Homo sapiens: one gene and its partner. The protein of the gene in region 1 interacts with the protein of each later gene in a pairwise test. Each region holds a gene or a part of one and is shown on either strand. Other genes may lie near its edges.

What was found.
Region 2: the proteins of ARHGEF9 (region 1) and GPHN interact in a two-hybrid assay, tested with the Homo sapiens proteins (one study listed by BioGRID).

Annotation. Positions count from the first base shown.
Region 1 is NC_000023.11:63,652,585-63,656,511, reverse strand, and holds part of ARHGEF9 (rho guanine nucleotide exchange factor 9), read left to right. Parts: intron 1-774; coding exon 775-1,018; intron 1,019-3,927. UniProt on the Homo sapiens protein: Acts as a guanine nucleotide exchange factor (GEF) for CDC42. Promotes formation of GPHN clusters.
Region 2 is NC_000014.9:66,917,038-66,920,964, forward strand, and holds part of GPHN (gephyrin), read left to right. Parts: intron 1-3,927. UniProt on the Homo sapiens protein: Microtubule-associated protein involved in membrane protein-cytoskeleton interactions. It is thought to anchor the inhibitory glycine receptor (GLYR) to subsynaptic microtubules.

The DNA of each region.
Region 1 (3,927 bases):
AAGTAAGTAAATGAATAAATAGAGAAATAAAAATGCCATGCATGGACCAATTATGAGTGTCTCATGGACTAGGGTTAGGATTAATCCAATTTTGTGTCTATGAGAGCAAAACAACAATAACAAATAGGCGACATACTGTTTGTATCCATCTACAACTTCTGTTTTTCTCCATAAGATTTGTGACATTCATCTGTGTTGATATGTGAACTTCTTTATTTAATTTTACCTCCATTTCTCTTGGCAGACTGGGCCTTTTCTAAAAATCCCCAGAGTGCTAAGTGTTAGACCCCCCCTAGGTAATCCTTTGCCAGCAGTCTGTGGCCTCCTAGCTACTCTTACTACTCAGTCCCCCTCTGATGTTCAGGTCTCACTGGCCTGCACAGATATTTGAACACACTCCAGGCAACCAGCCAGCTCATTTCATACCTCTAGTGGGCTTGCTGATGTTTTCGAAAAGGAGAAGCCCTTGCTAGCCGTGTTTATGTGGCTTACTGTTTCCTACCTCCCATCAGCAGACTTGCACACACGTCCAAGGATTGATTCTGGTGTCTGAAATGATCTTTCGAGGTGAGACAGAGGCTTTTTCTTTGGGCATCTAGTTAACCAACCTGTCAGTGTCAGACTACTAGTATAACCTGGCCAAATTTAGAACAAACCAACCCCCATTGGTACTTCAAAACGGTGACAGTGTTAGCATTCTGCTGTGCCCCTGTGCCAACTCTTCTAGTACTCGCCGTGCACATACCTTCAAGAAACCTCTTCCTTCCCATCTAGGACCTAATCCGGAGAGACATCCTGTACTACAAAGGCCGCATTGACATGGATAAATATGAGGTAGTTGACATTGAGGATGGCAGAGATGATGACTTCAATGTCAGCATGAAGAATGCCTTTAAGCTTCACAACAAGGAGACTGAGGAGATACATCTGTTCTTTGCCAAGAAGCTGGAGGAAAAAATACGCTGGCTCAGGGCTTTCAGAGAAGAGAGGAAAATGGTACAGGAAGATGAAAAAATTGGTAAGTGACCTGAGAGTAGAAAGAAGAACATGGCTATGAAGAACATAGGAGGTTTGAATTGGTTTCCATTTTCTTGGAGTCAGAGGGAAGATTTCTGTTGCAAACTGACTTAAGCTACTTTGGTGGTTCCTTATTATTAGGTTCTTTTTGGTAAGTACCAATAGCTTCCATTAGTCAGTGGTAGGTTTGAACTATAGGTTGTCCTCCCCTACTAGCTAAGAATATCACACTGAAAGCCAGCCTCAGGCTTGATTCTCCCAAACATACATTTATTAGCAAATAAACAAAAATCAGTTATACAACCTGTTCTGTAATCTTCATAAAGCCTGAGCTCTCTGTCATTAGGTATATAGTTTGTACTCCTGATTAGGATACTTCAGATGTTAACTAAATCCCCCTAGACTGTAGATTCAAATAATATGCACATACACTTCACACTTTCTGTGTGGAAGTATTTAAAGTAAATTATAGAAAATATAACAGGACTTAAAACCATGACCATTTTCATGATTTCAAATCACACTGAAACATACTTTTTTGCCTTACAATAAGTTGTTTCTCTTTTCCAGTGGGGATATAGATAGTAGAGATATTTTTCATGTTGCTTCCCAACTGTGGGATTTAGACGCCATTGGCTATAGCTTTGTGACTTATAAAGTACTGTCTGGTCTCTTGCTCATGGTCCTGCCTTTCTGTCATAAAAAATACCAAGCAACCAGACTTGTTAATTCCCTGAGAAGACATACAGTTTCTGTCTTTGCCCTATTGCTTATGGGAGTGAAATTGTACTTTAGAAGGCCTGAAAGCTCAAGTTTATGGAAATTGTCTCTAGAAAAATGGGCCTACTCATTGAATCCTGGTGCAAAAGGGTTCTCTTATCCTTCCATGTGGGCGATTGAAATTATCCAGAGGTAAGAAAGGATGGTCAGAAAGACAAATCTAACTCCAGTCTTCTCCTCAGAACTTGGGTAGAGTGCAAATTAATAACTCACTTTGAGTCTCATTGGAATCAGACTGCTTTCAGTATGTGGACACTCCATTGGGACATGATGTGGAGTGGCATATAAATGTTGCTGGCTACTTCTCTCAATAGCAAGCAGCAGCAGCCACTGACCTTGCCTAGGCTGTTAGAGTTATTAAAGGAATGGTCTTAGTGTTCAGACCCTGAATCAATTAGAAGGCCCCTGCCATTCCCATTGGCTCTAACACAATGTCTCCCACACAATGCCCTAATAAACCTGTGACTTTATCTGCTTCTAATAGAAAAGCTTCTAGAAATTACTTTCTGAACAGGCATATGTTCATCTTTAAAAATGTTGAGGTTTTTTTTTTTTGGTTTGATAATAACAGTAAATCACTTCCATTGTAGGAAATTTAGGGAAAAAGCAACAGAAAAGTACAAGAAAAAAAAAAAACACATGAACATACTCAGTAATAACTTTCATAAACATTTTGATATATATTTCCAGCCTTTTTTATGTGTCTAATTAGAAAAATCAAGGTGACTGAATCTTTTTTCTTTCTCTCCCCATACCTGCCTCTCTATAGTGGATAGATATAATTTTGTATCCTCATTTTCACTCATCATTATATCATTAGCATTTCTATCAGATCACTTCATATTTTTAATCATTATTTTATGAGGGTCATATAGTTTTATCATAGCTTTTTTAAACTTTTACTTTTTAATTATAAAATTAATGCATGACCATTATAACCATTTAAACAAATATGGAAATATATAAAGAAAACTTAGCATTCCTTCCCCTTCTCTGTCACTTCCATACTGAATGAAATAACCAGTGTTAACAGTGCAGTATGCATCTTTCCATACTTATCTCATGTCCATATAAACATATACAAACATAATACTTTTATATTTACAAAAATTATATTATATATATTACCTTGTAGGTTGCTTTTTTAAACTTAATTTATCATAAGTAACTCCCCAGATAAATAATATAGAATCTAACTATAACCCCTTGTATCAGTTAGGGTTCAACCAAAGAGGCATAACCTGTAGGAGATATATCATACCACTGCTGAAAATTGCATTACAAGGAATTGGCTTATGTGATTGTGAATGTTGACTAAGTGGCTCAGAATTCCATAGAGCAGGCAGTCAGAAATGGAGGATCACAGGCAGGCTCAAACCCATGGACATAGGCCAAAGCTGTCATCTACAGGCAGTCAGGAAGAGAAGCTCATGAGAAGGATGAAGTGGCACAGACATGGGCTAAAGCTGTGGTGCACAGGTAGAATTTCTGCCCTTTCTGTGTGAGACCTAGGCTCTACTTTTAAGGTCTTGCAACAGATTCAGTCAGGTCCATCCAGATTATCTAGGATATTGTCCCTTATATAAAGTCAACTGATTAGGGCCTGTATTAGCCCATGTTCACAGTGCTATAAATACCTGAGACTGGGTAATTTATGAAGAAAAGAGGTTTAATTGACTCACAGTTCTGCAGGCTTAACAGGAAGCATCACTGGGAGGCCTCAGGAAATTTAGAATCATAGTAGAAGGCAAAGGGGAAGCAAGCATCTTCTTCACATAGTGGCAGGAGAGAGAGAGAGCAAGAGGGAAGTGCCACATACTTTTAAACCATCAGATCTCGTGAGAACTCACCCACTATCATGAGAACAGCATGGGAGAAATTCCCCCCATGATCCAATCACCTCCCACTAGGCCCCTCCCCCAACACATGGGGATTACCATTCCACATGAGATTTGGGTGGGGACACAGAGCCAAACCGTATCAGGGGCTTTGATTATATCTGTAAAATACCTTCATGGCAACACCTACATTAGTGAGGACTACAGTCTAGTCGAATGGGCACATCAATAAATTCATCACACTTTTCTTATAAACAGCTGTATAACATTCCATAATATTATGTAATAACCA
Region 2 (3,927 bases), on another chromosome or scaffold:
TTTTGTATTAAGTTACTAATTTCTCACCTTTAATCTACCACTATTGATATGTTTGTACAGAACTATATATCATAGAAATTAGCTGATGGTTACCTAAGTGCATTTCTTCCTCAGGCCAGTCATTTTCTATTAACATTATATCCTGAGGAGGCTTTAACTGAATTTCCCAATACACTTAGCCATAACCTAAAAAATAAAAGTCAAAAGATACTGGCACGTTCTTAGAGTCCTTCTCAGACATTAACAGACCAGAATGTCTCCCAGAATGATGCTACTCAGGTTTGCAGGCTTGTTGGATTCCAAAAATAAGAGTGGTCTCAGCAACATATGACTTCACTCTTTCAAGCATCTGTTACAGTTGAGCTAAGAAACAATGTCATCTCTTGTTCTGAACCTCTTTGGAGATACCAATGCAGTATTATTTCCCTTACTGCATAACCTATCCATTCATTCCTTTACCCTCAGCTACCATTCTTCCTTCTCTCTATTTATACCCAAACTTTTTCACCTTTTAAAGAGTTGTAAGGTTTGGCCACTGTGCTGATTCAGATTGCCGTTGGTAATACTAGTTTAGCAAGTTCCTCCTGCACAGTCTATTCCTATTCATTTAGAGTAGGATTGTATCCCTTACCTTCATTTTAGCTAGCATAGATAACAATAACCAAGAGATTGTGTGTTTAACTTCTTTCTTTATATTTTGCATCTCCTTATGCATCCAGTGAGATAACTTTTTGGGAATTATCTCCATTAACTAATCACAGTAAAGAAGCAATTCCATGCTGTGGTTGACACTGTCTTCACTCAGGGATCAAAGGTTCATCATCCCACACCCTCTCTTCACTTCCTAAGCCATGTATTTCAGTGAGTCAGGGTCTTTCTAGAAAATCTTATTTTTGACACCAACTGTAAGGAGTTTTAGCCAACTGCAAAAAATAGCCACCTACAAATGTGGAGTACTCCACAAAATTGCTCATTTCTGACCCTAATTGCAAATTCAGGAGATCCTAAAATGACCTTCAGGTTTAATAATTTACTAGCATTCATGGAACTCACAGAAAGCTGTTATACTCATGATTATTGTTCATTGCAAGGAAAGAATACGGATTAAAGTCAGCCAAGGGAGAAAGTGCATAGGGCAGAGTCTAACAGAAGTAACAAATGAGGAACTTCTGTTGTCCTCTCTCTTTGGAGACATGGACATGTCACCCTTCTGGCGTCAATCTGTGATACCACACATGGAGTAATGCCAGCTGGGGATGCTCACCTGAGCCTTTGGTATCCAGAGCTTTTATTGGGACTCAAACACTTACTGCCAGTGTGGCTGACCTGTAATCTTTAATCCTAAAGTAGAGAGAAGCAATTGGGGGCCTTCTATGTAGAAAGTGGGGTCAGAAGGCCAAGAAAGGGAGTATGAGTATATATCCAAGTCACTTAGGAACTTTTATGCAGGTGCAAAAAAACTTATGTCAAAGTGGCCACAAGATTATTTAATAGACAGATGAATGAAAGTCCATGTTTACTGCTAGACACGAAAGCTTTGTGTGAAATCTTGAATTAATGGGGAGAGAGGGAGGGTAGCCTATACCTGTCTGTTCTTTTCCTGATCCCTTTCCCTCATTCCTGAACTGCAGTCTAACATTGTTAGACTGTCTCTGGTGCCCAAAGTCCATGGACAACAAAGACATTCCTATTAGGCGTGAAATTCCAAGGACCTAGAGATCACTCCCAGAAGCTGAGTGTAAAGACCAGACCTCTCCTCGGTCAAGGTTAAATTCTTTACCACACAATCTTTAAAGAGTAAACTGATTGAGCCATACAAAGATAGGTCGAAAGATTAAACATCTTTCCCGATATTATGTAACCCTCCAAAAATTTTTAAGATTTTTTTTTTTACATCTTAGATTTTAAGCTATTACTTCAAATGTGAAAGAGAAAGACCTCCACCTCTTCTGCAGCTATAGCTGGCCTTATATTCTGATTTTTAGGTTCTTACCTATTCTCTTTTGGTAATACGTTATAGATAATAGTGAGCACCTCAGCAGCAGATTATATTAACTTTATGCAGTGCTCTTTGCAAGCTTATTTTATATTTTGCTTGCTGTACAATGTTACCTAGCTATACTTTATGATGGTAGTTAGAACTTTAGCTCTCTGGACAAAATAATCTGGTTCTCACCTCGGTTGTTAGTTCTACTGCCCTGCTCTAACTAAAAATATGAAACCTCTTTCCTGCCTTTTTTTAAACAACTTCAGTACCAATAAATCTTTATTCATTGTATTTTCCCAAGAAAAGGAGAAGGGATAGGAAAAGAGTCAGCATGTGTGTTAAAAAAATGATTAGAAGATGGGAAAAGAAGTAGAGAATACAGCAAAATCAACCATCAAATAAACATACCCCAGTGGTGGGGTCACCGAAGCCCAAACGGGCTCAATCTCCTGCAGTTCAAGAATGAGGGGTTGGGATTAGGAAAATAACAGACAGGTACAGGCTACTCTCCCTCCCCATAAATTCAAGATTTCACACAAAGGTTTGGTGTCTAGCAGTAAACACAGAGTTTCATTTGTCTGTCTCCTATTAAACAATCTTGTGGCCACTTTGACATAAGTTTCTTGCATCTGTGTAAAAGTTCCTGAGTGCCTTGGATATAAATATTCATATTCTTTTACTTAGCCTCCTGAGCCCACTTTCTGCATGGAAGGCCCCCAGTTGCTTCTCTCTACTTTTGGATTAAAGATTAAGTAGATTTGGCCAGGCGTTGGGGCTCAGGTCTGTAATCCCAGCACTTTGGGAGGCCGAGGTGGGCCGATCACAAGGTCAGGAGTTCAAGACCAGCCTGGCCAACATGGTGAAACCCCATCTCTACTAAAAATAAAAAAAAACTAGCCAGGCGTGGTGGCAGGCACCTGTAATCCCAGCTACTCAGGACGCTGAGGCAGAGAATTGCTTGAACCCAGGAGGCGGAGGTTGCAGTGAGACAAGATGGCGCCATTGCACTCCAGCCTGGGCGACAGAATGAGACTCCGTCTCAAAACAAACAAACAAAAAAAAATGGTTAACTAGATTTGACCCATCCAAGATACAGCAGTGTCTTAAGTGTTTGGCATGAATCACATCAAGAAATGGTCTTGACTCAGGAGGTTGGGAACAAGGGATGAAGGGCTCCTAGTTTCTTCAGGATTTTTGCATAAATCATTTAAGAGTTGTAGAAATAACGCAAGAATTAAATGTGTGTATGTGAGTATGTAAGTTTTCTCTTGGGGAGGAGGGGATGGAAAAGAGGGTAGTATACAAGTTTTTAGAATGTATTTATTTATTTATTTTTAGAGACAGAGTCTCACTGTGTCACCCTGGCTGGAATGCAGTTACACAATCATAGCTCACTGCAGCCTCAAACTCTTGGGCTTCTTTCCTATCTTTCCTGTCTTTCTCATAATGCATCTTTCAACTACCAAGTTGTATATAGAAATTTTACTTTTTTTAAAATGCAGTGCATGCTTTTTTTTTTTTTAGAGAATGAATCTGATTCTGACCATCCATGCCTGTCCTCAGTCTTATTTTTTTTTATTTTTCCATAAGTTATTGGGGTACAGGTGGTATTTGCTTACATGAGTAAGTTCTTTAGTGGTGATTTGTGAGATCCTGGTGCACCCTTCACCGAGAGGTATACACTGCACCATATTTGTTGTCTTACCCCTCACCCCCCACACTCTTTCCCATAAATTCCCATAAGTCCCCAAAGTTCATTGTGTCATTCCTATGCCTTTGCGTCCTCATAGCTTAGCTCCCACATATCAGTGAAAACATACGATGTTTGGTTTTCCATTTCTGAGTTACTTCACTTAGAATAATAGTCTGTAATCTCATCCAGGTCATTGCAAGTGGTGTTAATTCATTACTTTTTATGGCTGAGTAATATACCATCATAT